Regions from separate parts of the Homo sapiens genome. Here region 1 is linked to region 2. A link means that fine-mapping ties the variant in region 2 to the expression of a gene that starts in the linked region. Tissue or cell type: thyroid. Region 2 holds a variant in brackets; the other region holds the start of a gene. All regions are shown on one strand. Distances are from middle to middle.

Region 1 (7,922 bases), 840 kb after region 2:
CTACTAAAAATACAAAAACTAGCTGGATGTGGTGGCAGGCGCCTGTAATCCCAGCTACTCGGGAGGCTGAGGCAGAAGAATCGCTTGAACCTGGGAGGCGGAGGTTGCAGTGAGCCGAGATCGTGCCACTGCACTCCAGCCTGGGCGACACAGCAAGACTTCATCTCAAAAAACAAACAAACAAACAAACAAAAAAACAAACTCTAGCGACCTGGGATTACAGGTGGCTCATGCCTGTAATCCCAGCACTTTGGGAGGCCAAGGCAGGAGGATCACTTGAGGCCAGTAGTTCAAGACCAACCTGGACAATGTAGTGAGACTATGTCTCTACTTTTTAAATAAAAAAGTAAAAAATTATTTTAAATTATAATTTATTTTTTAAAAAATCTGATTGTTACTTCCTCATATTCTAGTTGTGTTTTGTTTTTGGGTGGGCAGAAAGAAGGTTTCAGGGCTACTTATGTGGGACTCACTTGGAAAAGAGCTAGGATGTGGAAGGCTGCTTAACAAGTAACGTCAATGCTCCAGTAGTGTGAAGAACTTCCATAAAGTACATTAGGGAAACAAGACAGGCATGGAGTAGATGTCATTTTGAAAACAGACTTCCCACTTTAGGTGGACCCTAAAGAATGGGAGTGGGGAGAAAGGTGAATTCACACTTCATTCAAGCGCCTGTGAGCCTTAGATTATAAGAAAACAGGAACATTTGGGAGAAATCTGACTTGCACTGCTGGGCTGGCCCAGCCCTTTGGTTCTAGTGTAAACCAGAGGGCACCTCCAGTGCTTAACCTCCATCCCAGGCCAGGTCCAGTGCTCTGAGCATCAAAATCAACAGGTTCATTCCAGAGCCTCTACAGTGAAAAATACAACTCCATAGGCCTCTACTTGGCCAGTGAGTTACTTTCCATTGCACAAGTGAAGTCAGATATTTTTCTTGATTTGAAACATTAGATTTTGTTTAATTTAAAAGGAACTTAAAAATCGTGGTTTGCCAGGTGCAGTTGTGCTTGCCTTTAGTCCCAGCTACTCTGGAGGCTGAGGCAGGAGGTATGCTTGAGCCCAGGAGTTCGAAGCCAGCCTGGGCAATATAGCAAGACCTTGTCTGTAAAAAGAAAAAAAAATTGTGGCTAAATACACATATCATGAAATTCATCATCTTAACCATTTGTAGGTGTACAGTTCTGTAAAGTTAAGTATGTTCAACACTGCTGTGCAGAACTCTCCAGAACTCCTTTTATCTTGAATAACTGAACCTCTGTAACCTTTAAACATAAAAGAAACTTTTTTTTTTTTGAGACAGAGTTTCACTCTTGTTGCCCAGGCTGGAGCACAATGGCACGATCTTGGCTCACCACAACCTCCGCCTCCCAGGTTCAAGTGATTCTCCTGCCTCAGCCTCCCGCGTAGCTGGGATTACAGGCGCCCGCCACCACGCCCGGCTAATTTTGTTTTTGTATTTTTTAGTAGAGACGGGGTTTCACCGTGTTAGCCAGGATGGTCTCGATCTCCCGACCTCCTGATCTGCCCACCTTGGCCTCCCAAAGTGCTGGGATTACAGGTGTGAGCCACCACGCCCGGCCTTTTTTTTTTTTTTGAGACAGGGTCTCACTTTGTCTCCCAGGCTGGACTACAGTGGTGTGATCTCGGCTCACTGCAGCCTCCACCTCCTGGGTTCAAGTAACTCTCCTGCCTCAGCCTCCTGAGTAGCTGGGATTATAGACATGCACCACCATGCTCGGCTAATTTTTGTATTTTTAGTAGAGAAGAGGTTTCATTATGTTGGCGTGGCTGGTCTGAAACTCCTGACCTGAAGTGATCTGCCTGCCTCAGCCTCCCAAAGTGCTGGAATTACAAGCATGAGCCACTGCACCCGGCTTGAGGTGTGCCTTAATATCTTTGCAATGCAACCAAGGGTTGCCATTCCTGAGTGACTGAGGCCTCATGATGAGTGCTTGGGATCCATATGGTATGTTATTCAAATCATCCATAATGGTATGTATGCTATTGTCTCTACTTTTCTGTACTTTTGTGTAAGTTTGAAAGCTTTCATGATAAAATTTTTTTTTTTTTTTTTTTTGAGACGGAGTCTCGCTCTGTCGCCCAGGCTGGAGTGCAGTGGCGGGATCTCGGCTCACTGCAAGCTCCGCCTCCCGGGTTCACGCCATTCTCCTGCCTCAGCCTCCCAAGTAGCTGGGACTACAGGCGCCCGCCACTACGCCCGGCTAATTTTTTGTATTTTCAGTAGAGACGGGGTTTCACCGTTTTAGCCGGGATGGTCTCGATCTCCTGACCTCGTGATCCGCCCGCCTCGGCCTCCCAAAGTGCTGGGATTACAGGCGTGAGCCACCGCGCCCGGCCGATAAAAATTTTTAAAAAGTCATTATGTTTTCAGTTCATCACCAAAGTAATGACCAAATCCAAAGCACCTTTATTAGGCCTATCATGCACTATCTTGGTGTGGGCTCCCGCTCTGCCAAGAACCACACAACCTTTGAAACTGATGTCCTGGGCCTGGCGCGGTGGCTCACGCCTGTAATCCCAGCACTTTGGGAGGTTGAAGCGGGCAGATCACCTGAGGTTAGGAGATCGAGACCATCCTGGCTAACACAGTGAAACCCCGTCTCTACTAAAAAAAAAAAAAAAAATACAAAAAAATTAGCCAGGCATGGTGACGGGCGCCTGTAGTCCCAGATGCTCGGGAGGCTGAGGCAGGAGAATGGCTTGAACCCGTAAGGCGGAGCTTGCAGTGAGTCGAGATCGTGCCACTGCACTCCAGCCTGGACTTCGTCTCAAAAAGAAAAAAAAAAGAAAAACTGATGTCCTGGATACTGGGGCGGTTCCTTTACCTTCCTTCAAGGCTGTTCTTGGCGGGTTCCTGCTGTTTCGTTTTGTTTTTTCTTTGTTGTTGTTGTTTTTTTTTTGAGACAGAGTTTCGCTCTTGTTGCCCAGGCTGGAGTGCAGTGGCATGATCTCGGCTCACTGCAACCTCCATCTCCCGGATTCAAGCGATTCTCCTGCCTCAGCCTCCCGAGTAGCTGGGATTACAGGCACGCGCCACAACGCCCGGCTAATTTTTTTTGTATTTTTAGTACAGATGGGGTTTCACCATGTTGGTCAGGCTGGTCTCAAACTCCTGACCTCAGGTGATCCGCCCACCTCGGCCTCCCAAAGTGCTGGGATTACAGGCGTGAGCCACTGCGCCCCGCCGGGCTCCTGCTGTTTCAACCCATTCCTTGGATGGTGCTGCCTCCAAGTGTTCGGACCTTAGCCCCAGGTGGTCTTAGCACCAGTAACCCCCGCTCCAACTCCCTAAAGTCCGACCCGCCCCAGGCCCCGCCCACGCTCCACCCTCCCTCCCTGTCTAGCCCCCTCCCCCATCCCCTTCCCCCTCCTTCGCGTCTCCCCATCCGGCGCCCCCGCCTCGCGTCCCCTGGGTCCGCATCCTGGCAGCCTCCGCGTTTCCCTACCCCTGCTACCGGGCTCCAGCCCCGGGGACGCTATCTGCTTCACTCGGCCGTGCGCGCCGCCACCGCCCCGCACTGCCTTTTTCTAGGCATGGGGTCATCTAGGCCATGCATGATTCGCCCCTGCCCCACAGAAGTCCCTGAGGGGTCCTGGCCGGACAGCACGGAATAGAAGAACGGAAACTCTCCCAAAAGGAGTCCCAGGCCTGGCTCTATCCCTCCAGATGACGTCCCAGGAGGCCAGAGTGCAGGGCCGGCCAGAGGGAGTCACAGTCCGGCACCGAGAGGCAACTCGGCAGCTGGCGGGGCCCGGGCTCGAACCCAGGGACTCACCCAAACCGAGGTGACCGTCGCACGCGCCGCCGCCACCGGGGCCGACGAATCACCTGCCCTGGGAAGCTAGGTCCGCCCTCCCCCCGCCCCCAGCTGCTGCCTCACCGCTGGGCCCACAGGCCTCGCGCCCTGAGTTTCCGGCTCCTCCCTCCTTTGCGAACGCTGGGAGTTCCGTTGCCTACAGGCCGTTATTTCCGCCTTCAACGGCTGGGGCATTTCCCATCGGCTAGGGAGGGGGTCTTCTTGCATTTGCTTTGCACTGTCCGGGACTCTTCCTGCTAGATGACTTGACCAGGCCGAGGCCTCCCTCCTGAACACAAGCTCTTCGGGGCTCCTTTCGCCAATGGGAGGAGGCTGATCTTGTGGCCGGGCATTCAACGCCCTGGGCCCTGCCGCCTCCCGCAGATCTTCCCGGGCCTTAGGGCTTCACCTGGAGTCCCCTTCCCCTCTTGGGCCCGTGCTCTTAAACGGGCAGTGCCAATTGCCTGGATTACTCCAACTAACCCCTCACACCCAAGTTTCAGACACAGACCTTCGCTCCCCCACTTGCCCTTAACAAAAGCAGATACATACCTCGATTACTGCCTGTTTGCTGCTTTTGCGAGCTTCTTTCCCACTCGGCTGCGGGCTGAGCAATGGTAGGGACCTGGCTTGATTCCTATTTAAGTAGCCAGAGTCCAGCACAAGGGATGGCGCTCAGTAGACCCTGCGTGAAGGAATGATTAAATTGGTGCAAAAGACTAGGGTAAGCGGCAGAGATTTAGGAGATTAAGTCCTGCCAGGGTGTAGCCTCTGCAGGGCGGGAAGGCTGAGATTACAATTTTAAAACTGAATATTTATTGAATGCTTACATTCAGCCAATCCCTGCTTCACACCCATCATCTCATTTAATTTTTTTCCTTTTTTTTCTTTTTTAAGCCAGTAGATATTAACTCTTAATCATGACATGAGGAAGTAGACACACTGAAGCTCAGAGAGGTTAAGTAATTTGGCCAAAGTAACACAGCTTTCAAGGAAAATGTTTGAATTTGCTGAAAGTTTGATGTATAGGGAAGTTGACTACCGATGTATGACAGAAGCAAAGTATCCACCTTTGGCACATTTTGCGTCCACGGAATGCTAAAATTTGGACTTGTGTATTTTATGCACATTACACCATACATTCAGACTAAAAAGAATAGGAAATTAGGCTGATGAAAGGCTATTACTAGACTGGTAAAAAGGGTTCTGGGGCCCTGGAAGGCCAATTTTTCTGGACGTGAGATTTTTTTTTATTTTTTTGAGATGGAGTCTCGCTCTGTCGCCCAGGCTCTGGAGTGCAGTGGCGCAATCTCCGCTCACTGCAAGCTCCGCCTCCCGGGTTCACGCCATTCTCCTGCCTCAGCCTACTGAGTAGCTGGGACTACAGGCGCCTGCCACCATGCCCGGCTAATTTTTTTGTATTTTTAGTAGAGACGGGGTTTCACTGTGTTAGCCAGGATGGTCTCGATCTCCTGACCTCATGATCTGCCCGCCTCGGCCTCCCAAAGTGCTGGGATTAAAGGCGTGAGCCACCGCACCCGGCCTGGACCTGAGATTTTATTTAGGTGGCTCTTTCAGTGGCCAGGCTGAGCAAAGCTGTCCACTAGGGTATTTATTTGGTGCATCCACAAATAAAAGCTCATGTCTGCCTGATTTATGAGACTGACAAAAAAGAGAAGTCCAGGGCCTGACTTCACTAGGGAATTTTGACACCCAGGATATTAGGTATTTTGTGTCCAAACAACCATCCCTTACAACCACGGAGGTCACATCTAATGGTCGGGCTGCATAGAAAAGAATAAAGACCTTAAACATTTTAGGAAAATAGACTGAGACTGAGAAAGAAGTTCCCAAATTCATGCCTGGAGGTCCAGGAGAAATGTTCTAGTTCCTCACTCACACCTAGCTGAATAACTTCCCATATCACTGAAAAAACAAAACAAAACCAGGTCAGGCACTGTGGCTCATGCCTGTAATCCCACCACTTTGAGAGGCCAAGGTGGAAGTAGCCCATGAGTTTGAGACCAGCCTGGGCAACATGACAAAAACCCATCTCCACAAAAAAAAAATTAGCTAGGTGTAGTGGTATGAGTCATGATCCCAACTACTTGGAAGGCTGAGGTGGGAGGATCACTTGAGCCCAGGAAGTCATGGCTGCAGTGAGCTGTGATCCTGCCACTGCACTCAGCCTGGAGACTCTGTCTCAAAACAAACAAAAACCAGAGCACCTGGCCCAGGGGTTCATTTAGAGCCAGTGGGTGTTTCAGAAGGGGCTACCTCTGGAATCTCAGCTTCAGAATGTTGGCCACATGCACACACTGTGCTTTATGTCTTTAAATCAATTAATTTAAGAAAAAAGCCTGACTACATTTATTTAAAAGGGCAACATTGGCCAGGTGTGGTGGCTCATGCCTGTAATCCTAGCACTTTGGGAGGCCAAGGCGGGCAGATCACAAGGTCAAGAGATCCAGACCATCCTGGCCAACATGGTGAAACCCCATCTCTACTAAAAATACAAAAATTATCTGGGCATGGTGGCGCATGCCTGTAGTCCCAGCTGCTCGGGAGGCTGAGGCAGGAGAATCACTTGAACCTGGGAGGCGGAGGTTGCAGTGAGCCGAGATCGCGCTACTGCACTCCAGCCTGGTGTCAGAGCAAGACTCTGTCTCAAAAAAAAAAAAAAAAAGGGCAACATCATAGCATTACCTTACATCAATCACTTCCCACTTTATTAGAAGGTATCTATAAAATAAATACATTGCTCATGCCTATAATCCTAGCACTTTGGGAGGCTGAGGCAGACAGATCACCTGAGGTCAGGAGTTCGAGACCAGCCTGACCAACATGGAGAAACCCTGTCTCTACTAAAAATACAAAATTAGCTGGGCATGGTGGTGCATGCCTGTAATCCCAGCTACTCGGGAGGCTGAGGCAAGAGAATTGCTTGAACCCAGGAAGCGGTGGTTGCAGTGAGCCGAGATCGCGCCATTGCACTCCAGCCTGGGCAACAAGAGCGAAACTCCATCTCAAAAATAAGTAAATAAATAAATACGTGAAAATAATGTTATAGGCTGGTGCAAAAGTAATTGCAGTTTTTGGCCGGGCGCAGTGACTCACGCCTGTAATCCCAGCACTTTGGGAGGCCGAGGCGGGCAAATCACCTGAGGTCGGGAGTTTGAGACCAGCCTGACCAACATGGAGAAACCCCGTCTCTACTAAAAATATAAAATTAGCCGGGCGTGGTGGCACATGCCTGTAATCTCAGGTACTCAGGAGGCTGAGGCAGGAGAATCGCTTGAACCCAGGAGGCAGAGGTTGTGGTGAGCCAAGATGGCGCCATTGCACTCTAGCCTGGGCAACAAGAGTGAAACTACTTCTCAAAAAAAAAAAAAAAGTAATTGCAGTTTTTGCCATTAAAATTAATGGCACCAACCTAATATAATCTTGCTAGATAGATATGGATGTCTGCAGAAAGCTGTAAGTCTGGGGACTTTGTAAAAATCAGAGATTAGCAAGTGTTGAAGTGATAAGGAGTCACACTAACAGAATTTTTCTTTGACGTAATCAGAAAAATTCAAAGAGGACAGAAGAGGGAAGAACCACTTTCTCACTCTATTATTCAATGTCATTAAAGTGGAATCTGTGTACCCCTTAAAATCTTCTGGTTGCCCATGGGCAGGAGAATCCTTACTTAGAAAAGAGAAGGTTGAGAGCAGGAAGGTGTCCAGCCCAGAGGGGAAATGGAGGGAGGTAAGATCACAGAGGCTGCTGGGACACAGGGGCAGGTAAGGGCCTCAGGCCACGGTGGGGAGTTTGGATTTTACCTCCACTGCTGAAGAGGGTTTATTTTTTTGGGGGGTGCGTGGGGGTTGTTTTTGTTTTTGAGACATATCTTGCTCTGTCGCCCAGGCCGGAGTGCAGTGGTGCGATCTCTGCTCACTCCAACCTCCGTCTCCCAGGTTCAAGCAATCCTGCCTCAGCCTCCCAAGTAGCTGGGATTACAGGCATGCGCCACCATGCCTGGCTAATTTTTATATTTTTAGTAGACACGGGGTTTCACCATGTTGGCCAGGCTGGTCTCGAATTCCTGACCTCAGGTGATCC
Region 2 (7,922 bases):
CCTTGCTTCAGGGTCTAGTCCCTAGAAAGTCCCCCACCTTTACCTCCTCCCTACGCTGGAGTCTCTGGTCTCGCCCTCATCACTGTATCCCCATTCTGTTCCCCGGTCTCACCCTCATCACTGCATCCCCATTCTGTTCCCCCGCCACCCTGCACTCTCCCACCCCTGTCATGCCTGAGCACGCTGTCCTCTCCTGTGGCTCAGAGCAGGTCATCTCCCTGCTTTTCGTTAACAGTGATGTAACAGCCCTTGCTTAACGGAGGGCTCCTCACGTGCCAGCTACTGCATACTAAGCACTTTAAACGTATTAACTCATTTCCTCCCCTCCCCACAAAAACTTAAGAAGTCGGTGCCATTATATATCACCTATTTTACCAAATGGGGAAACTAAAGCACAGAGAGGTTAAGTAACTTGCCCAAGGTCACAGAGCTGCTGACAACTTCTTTATTGCCTCCAGGCTGAACATAAACTCCAAGAAAGTCCCATGAGGCTCTTTGGATCTCTTTTGCCCCTGTTGTTTGCAGGAACCCATCTCCCACCACTCTCCCCCACCCACACTGCAAGCGGCAGCCGCCTGAGCTATATTTAGATCCCAGAAGCCACCAAGCTCCCTCCGCACTCCCCGCCCTTGTGCATGCTGTTCCCTCTGCCTGGTCCCGGCTCTGTGAGGTGTGAGGTCTCCCCGTTAGCCCTAGTTTTCTTTCTGCCTCCTGGGAACCGTGTCCACCACCTCTCCACTTTGATCAATTATTTCCTTGCCGTTGTCTGTCGGCCTGTCAGCCTACCCCCACCCGACCGAGAACGCCTTGACGGTAGTGAAATGGTCTTGCCAATAGACTCCAGAGCAGGCTCCGCCACGATGTCAGCGCCAGGAAATGTTGGTGAATGAATGAATGAAGGCTTTCTGCTGCGAATCAGGCCCACTCTCCACAAACAGACCTGAGGAGAGGGGCCCAGGCCCGGCCCCCAGCGCTTCTGCAGCGGGAAAGCTGCGTCCAGAGAAGGCTGGGAGGTTGCTCCCAGGCCGGCTGAGGAGAGACCCTCGGAGCCTTCAACGCAGCCAGGCGGCAAGTGGGGGCAGGGCGTGGGCGCGGACACACCCCCCGCAGTGCCCCCGGCGCCCGGCAGGGGGCGCCGCCCCGCCGGCCCACGCCCCGCCGCGCGCCGGGCAGGCCCCCTCGCGCAGGCGCGCTGCCGCGGGCGGAGGATCCGGGCCGCGCTTCCTCTCGCCAGGCCTGCGAGCTTCCTCCCAGCGGAGCCCTGGGCGAGCCGAGGTTGGCCGCCGCCGCCGCCGAGCCCGCTGCCGCCCTCCCGCTCCTGCCCCACCCGCGCCTTGCCCGGGGGCTTCTGCCGGGGTGGGGTCCGAGCCGGGCGACCGCCCGGCTGCGCCGCCGTCGGGGCCGTAACCCGGCCCGCCGTCCCTCCCGCCCCAGCCAGCCTCTGGCCGCCGGAGCCCGCGGGGCGTGGAGCGCGAGGAGCCCCGCGGCCCCGATCGAGCGTCCGGGGCGGCCCCCGGCAGCCAGCGCGACGTTCCAAAATCGAACCTCAGTGGCGGCGCTCGGAAGCGGAACTCTGCCGGGGCCGCGCCGGCTACATTGTTTCCTCCCCCCGACTCCCTCCCGCCCCCTTCCCCCGCCTTTCTTCCCTCCGCGACCCGGGCCGTGCGTCCGTCCCCCTGCCTCTGCCTGGCGGTCCCTCCTCCCCTCTCCTTGCACCCATACCTCTTTGTACCGCACCCCCTGGGGACCCCTGCGCCCCTCCCCTCCCCCCTGACCGCATGGACCGTCCCGCAGGCCGCTGATGCCGCCCGCGGCGAGGTGGCCCGGACCGCAGTGCCCCAAGAGAGGTGAGTGCCTGGCCGTCCCGGAGTGTCCCCTGGAGGGAAGAGGGTGGAGGTCGCGCGTCTAGTCTCTGTTGCTGCCACTGTCGCGTCCACTCCCATTCCCCTCTTCTCCCACTTCTCCCTTCTCTCCTTTACTCCCTTGCACGGGTTCGAATTCTCCCAGGAGCCACTGTCAGAACCCAAATTGGAAGGGAGTGCATGAGGGAGGTACTGCCCTGCAGCTCCACGGACTCGTCTTCTCGGGTCATCCCGAGTCCCCCCCTCTGTGGAGCTCAGAGTAGGAGGTGGCTGGAGTCTGGAGGAAGAGGATCCGTATGGGCCAGGTCCCTAGAGAGAGTGCTGGACTCCCCTGCCCTTCCCTGTACAGGGCCTCCCCGCAGGTGCCCTGGCTTGCTTGGTTCTGACCCCTCCCTCATTACCCCACCATGACCCTGCGGGCTGCAAGCAAGCCCAGGGCCCAGCCACCTCGGGTGAGCAGTTAGAAGCCCAGGTCCTAGGACTGAGCCTGTCACCCTTGGCCTCTCAGAAGACCAGGCCTAAGCCAAGGGATCTTTGGGTGGGAAACTGGGCAGGCCTTCTGCCCGGGGGGAGGTAACGGAGCATTAGCACCATGCCCCCACCTTCTGGCACCCTGGGCAGCCCATTCTCCTAGGCTCTTTGTGGCCCAGACCAGGTGTCAGGAAGGGGTGTGTCCAGCCAGCAGATTTTTTGGAGCTTAACTACCAGTTCACTTCCCCGCCCATTTTGTACACCCGGGAACCGAGGCTCAAAGGGAGAAGTTGCTACCCCAGGCCTCTAGTGGAGTTAGGCTGGCTGTCCTTTCATCCCCAGCTATACAGGGCTGGATGGCTGTGGGTGGAAGGAAACCAGGCAGGCACCTTCACCCACTGGGGACACAGGCCCCCAGCCCGGCCCCAGAGGGACCTTGTTGGTTGAGCACGTGCTTCCCTGCAGAGGGCTGGAGGGAGTGAAAGGGCTTCCGGCTCCAGCTGTGGCTGGGTCAGCTAGCAGGAGATGTGGGGAATGTGTGGTGTATGGCCATCTGTGTGGTGTGGCAGGAAGGTCCGGTCCTGGCCCCGGCTCTGAGTTGAAACAACCTGGTGGTCAGTCCTGACCCAGCACTCGCCACACCTATGGCCCAGCTGGCACAGGAGCAGCCAAGTTCAGGATATAAATGGGGTCACATGGGAACCGTGGAAGCTCTGTCTCCACTGGCAGCAGGCTACAGACTGGGGACATGGGAGCATTGTGAGAGTGGGGACACCCAGGGGGCCTGTTTCAAGCTCCTAGTACCCTGGCGGTTCCAGTGTCTTTCTTGGTTGTGGCCACAGCAGGAACAGGGCAAGGACAGCAGGGGTGAGGTTGAGGCCTGGCAGGATCCTCTGGCCCAGGAGAGCAGGCATTGCCCTGGTGGGTGCTGAGCAGTGTCTGGGCTCCCTTGGAGCTGCTGGCAGTTTTGTCCTGCTGGGTCCCTGCTCACGATTTAGGGTTTTTTTGTTTTTTCACTTTTTTTTCTGGCTGTCCTGACATGCACAGTGGAGGGGACCCAGATGTCCTGGGCCTGTGAGACTCCCCTCACATGGCCCCACACCCAGCCCTAACTTCCTTTCCAGCCTGAGGGACTGGGGCTGGAGCCTGACATGGTTAGCTCCCTCCCACCCCAGTCAGCCTTTTTAATTTTTATTTTATTTTATTTTATTTTTTTACCAACTGTGAGCTGTGAAGGTGTGATCCAGGGTCCCAGGGCCTTTGAAGAAAGGAGTCTGGCTTCTGGCTGGCACGTGTGCAGGGATGTGCTTTTCATTGGTGAGCTTGGTGCCCTCCACCCTCTCAGAAGCAGCTGCTCTTCTCTCTGCATTGGGTCAGGGGCAAGGAAAAAGCAGAAAATGTTCCCATTCACCACCGCAGGGGGGCCAGACCCCAAAAGGCTGAGCCACACAGAGTGGCCCTCGGCAAGGGTTGGAAATTTCGGGGACAGAATGCAGCTTCCTCCAAACAAGTA[T/C]AGGTAGGGGTTGAGACCCAGGATCCACAGTGTGACATGGCTGCCCCCCAAAGGGGGCAGACCCACCTGGGTGCGGTTCTGGGCTCCATCTTTTGAAGGATTTTAAAACCTTGACAGGTCATCTTCAAAGAGCCAGGGATGTTGACTGAGTCTGGGAAAGAGAAAGTAGGGACAGATTCTCATATGTCTGAGGGACTGTCCCAAATGAGAAAGGCATCCCATGGCAGAAATTGTCCCAGACACGTGGGCCAGAGCTAGGGAGCAGGTGGGTCCCAGGGAAGTGAATCTGAGCTCATTATAGGGAAACCATGAATGTACTCATTTTCTTGATTTAGAAAATAACAAAACAGCGCTACAGGAAATTTAGAAAATGAAACAAAAATCACCCACTATTTCTTCAGCAGGCAGTGACTGTGTTAGCATTTTGGAGTTCACTGCCAGTCTTTTCCCCATCCTTTTCCTTCATTGTCGTTGTCACTGGAGTGTGTGTGCCGTGACACCTTTTTTCATTTAATACTGCGTCTGTGGGCATTTTCTCATGGTGCTACGCGGTCTAAGTAACGTTGCTTCTAAAAAGCTACAGAACATTCTAGGCTGGCCTGCTGCAGCGCCATCACCCATACACTGGAGCGTGTGCATTTTTCCCCTCTGTTGCTGTTGTGGTTGTCGTTACTATGAGTCCCAAAAGCAGCCAGGGTGTTGGAGGGCACAAGCAACTTGGCACCCAACTGAATGTGGGTTCCAGGCCCAGACATGCCACTTAGGCCCAGGGTAGAGGGACCTTAGACAGGTCACTGACCTGCTGAGCCTCGTTGATATAAATAACAGGATGGTAACACCTACTTCAGAGGAAGGTGTAAGGACAGTGTCAACTAACTAACCAAGGGACTCTAAAGTGCCTGGCACAGCCCTTTCTTCACTCCCTCTGTGAGTAGGATTGGCATTGTTGAAGGAGTGCCCACTGCTGGCTGCCTCAACCTGTGGGGAAGGTGCCTGAGCCACGGGCCAATGTTGACTGACCACTCACCTGGCAAAGAGGTGGTCTCCGCCTGAGGAGCCCCTGTGAAACCCCCTGGCCCTGAGGTTCTAGAATACTATGGCCAGTGCCCTTGCCTGCCTTCCCTTCTCCCCATTACCATATGATTGGCTGGCCTAGGACATGGGGCTGGCCCTGGGAAGATGGGCTGCTGGTTAGGGTCCGGGACCTGACTCCACCCATTCCCCTTCCGGTCTCCCAGCATCAGAGCTAAATAGACAAGGCCTCTTCTCTCTCTCTCTCTCTCTTTTTTTTTTTTGTGTGTGTGTGTGTGTGTGTGTGTGTGTGAGATGGAGTTTTGCTCTTGTTGCCCAGTCTGGAGTGCAATGGCGCGATCTTGGCTCACCACAACCTCCGGCTCCCGGTTTAAGCGATTCTCCTGCCTCAGCCTTCCAAGTTGGGATTAGAGGCATGTGCCATCACGCCTGGCTAATTTTGTATTTTTAGTAGCGATGGGGTTTCTCCGTGTTGGTCAGGCTGGTCTCAAACTCCTGACCTCAGGTGATCCACCCACCTCGGCCTCCTGAAGTGCTGGGATTATAGGCGTGAGCCACTGCGCCTCTTCTGTAAGAGCCTGGCTGCCTCCTGCCTCCCAGCTCTGGCTAGGTCAGCCCAGCTTGGCATTTTCCCAGAGGAAATAGAGGCCTGCTTAGCCTGAGACTTAGACAAGGAACCCAGGCATCCTGAGCCCCAGCCCAAGAACAGCCATGCCAGCCTCATCTTCGCACCCTGTTCCAGTAGCCAAGGAAGGGAAAGAAGCTGGGAGATTAAGGGTAGGGGGATTCTGGAGCCTCCCAGAGCTTCCCAGGAGGGAGTTGGACACATCGGGAAACTCATGTTAGCCTCCCCCTCCTCAGCAGGTGTTCCCCAGGTCTAACCTGAGTGTGTATCACTGTGACACACCTGCTTCCTCTTGTTCTACTTTTGTGGAGACCAGGGTAACTGGGAGTGCCCTCCTACAGCCACCCCGTGGGCAGTAGCAGGACACCAGTCTCCTCCTGGCAACCCTGGGCCTAAGAGACTGTAGCCCCAGATGACCCTAGGGTGGCCCAGGACTAACCTAAGGAAGGGGTCCTCCCCCAGGTGGCCCATTCAGTGCAGAGGTCCCTTGGGCACACGACTTCAGACTCCAGCTGCCAAACTTTGGCCTGTGGAGTATCTCCTCCTCCCTGGTCTTAGTGTAAGGGAAGTGGGCATGACAACTGCCCTCCTGTCCCACAGCTTGGGATGGGATGAGGTCACAGGGTGGGGTCCGCCCCAAGATGCTGGCCTGGCCTGGCTCAGATGAGAGCCCTTTGGGTGTTTCTCAGTTTCCCCCGCCCTTGGTTGGGGACAGGATGGGTGGAGGAGCAGGCCACCCCCAACGCCCGGCAGGGAGCACTGCCTCCCTTCCCCCTCTCCTCTGGGTCCCTTCATCCAAGGGCTGGAAATAGAATCCGCTAAGTAATGATTAAAGTCAAATTCAGACCTAAAAATAAAGAGCTGGTGAAGGAAGAGCTGGTGCTCCCTGCATGGCTGAGGGGAGAAGTGAGCAGGGAGAGGCTGGCTTTGGGTGGCTGAGCCCCTGCTCCTCGGGATCAGAAGTACTCCACCAGTTGGGGGGGTGCTCTTTTATCTGCCATGATGTGGCCCATTAAGTGTAGACGGCACCACTCAGGGCAGACTGGCAGGACCCATTAGAAAAAAAATCCCATTTTTCCCATGGGGAAACTGAGGCCCAGAAAGGAGAAGTGGTTTGTCAAGCGACTATTTGAGAGCTCCCCTCAGCAGGCCCCCAGGGACTGGAGGGCCCTGTGCAGCCCAGCCTGCCCTTTCTGCCTGCTCAGTTTCTCTTCCTGGTTTTGAGGTGCTAAGATGAAGTCAGCTTCTCATCACACACTAGCTGTGCACACACCCTCCAACCGCAGCTTCCCTCCACCCCTCCTTCTGTGGTCTGGGCCCAGAGTCGAAGGAACAAGTAGAAGAGAGGCTGCTTGGTGCCCCCCTGGCTGTCCTGATCATGGCATGGTTGTAAGCCTCGTGGGCAGGCGAAAACCTGGGCATCATCTGCCCCCCTTGGACCCTGGCTGCTGCTTCTCAGCCCAGCCTGACACCTGGTCCTCATGCAGACTCGCGCATCTATCTATCTGCAGCTTGTGCTGTCCGTGCTGCAGGGAGACAGGAGGGAAGGATGAAGAGCAAACCCTGAGAGCGCCTCTGCTGGCGGGTAGAGGAGACGAGGAGTCAGTGAGGGGAGGCCTGTGGTTCTCACTTCCTGGCAGAGCTGGTAGGAGCTCTGAAGCTGGGGCTCTGCGTGGGCTGGGGCAGCCTGGAGGGCCTCCTGGAGGGGAAGGTCCTGTGAAAGTTGAGAAGTGTTTGAAGAAGAAGCGTGGTAGGAGGAGAGGTCCTTGTTTGAAGCTTCTGCCCTCTCTAGGGCTGCTGGCTCTTTTCTGTGTGTCCCTCGACAGGCTCTTGGCCTCTCTGAGAGGCTGGGGTATGCAGACAAGCAAGAAGTGGGCACAGAAGTACCTCTGCTTCCCAGAGCAGAACAGCCAAGCTCTGGGCAGACCTCCCCTCGGTGCCCCCCACCTGTCCATTTTCAGGGTGTCGTCTGTCCTGCACAAGGAAAGGTGGGAAGAAAGGTCCCCTAACCAAGGTTCAGACAACTCTGAGCTCAAGTACCCACACAGCTAGTTCCTCCTCTGTCAGAGATCACCAGTCCTTGCCCTATGGGGTGTTTGAAGGATTAAGTAACTAATGCAGTGCCCCAAACCCGGTTGGGTCAGTCAGCTGTAATTCCCGTGTTCTCATTCTGCAGCCCATCCTGCTGGAGGAGTGTACTGGTAACACCCCCATCTCCCTTAAGTAGTAGCAAGTCTGTCCTTTGTGTTGATCCCCACAGCTTTACCTTCTGAGCTGTGTGTTCTGCAGATCCTGGTTCTGAAGTGGGGAGACCAGAAATCTGGGGGCCGAAGTTTTAGACAGCTTATGGGCCTCCAGCCGTCAGTCTCCCCACCTAGAATGTGGCCAGGAGACTTCCGGGTGAGGGACAAGAACATGA

What was found. PIP is the estimated chance that this variant, and not a neighbour inherited with it, causes the effect.
Region 1: it holds the start of SNUPN, and the variant in region 2 is fine-mapped to the expression of SNUPN in thyroid (GTEx, PIP above 0.99). The same link has a PIP of 0.9 or more in lung and subcutaneous fat.

Annotation. Positions count from the first base shown.
Region 1 is chr15:75,621,869-75,629,790 of GRCh38, forward strand. SNUPN (snurportin 1) reads right to left here and starts at 3,857. Exons shown (of 9, transcript NM_005701.4): 1 at 3,798-3,857. RefSeq lists a silencer at 3,336-3,385 and an enhancer at 4,036-4,225.
Region 2 is chr15:74,780,874-74,788,795 of GRCh38, forward strand. It overlaps CSK (C-terminal Src kinase), which reads left to right and starts at 1,207. Exons shown (of 13, transcript NM_004383.3): 1 at 1,207-1,847. It overlaps MIR4513 (microRNA 4513), which reads right to left and starts at 7,884; the gene lies at 7,799-7,884. RefSeq lists enhancers at 1,909-2,484, 3,367-3,496, 3,507-3,566, 6,335-6,524, 6,595-6,814 and 4 more and silencers at 1,087-1,306, 1,417-1,676, 6,927-7,104. The variant T/C (reference allele first, on the strand shown) is at 3,847.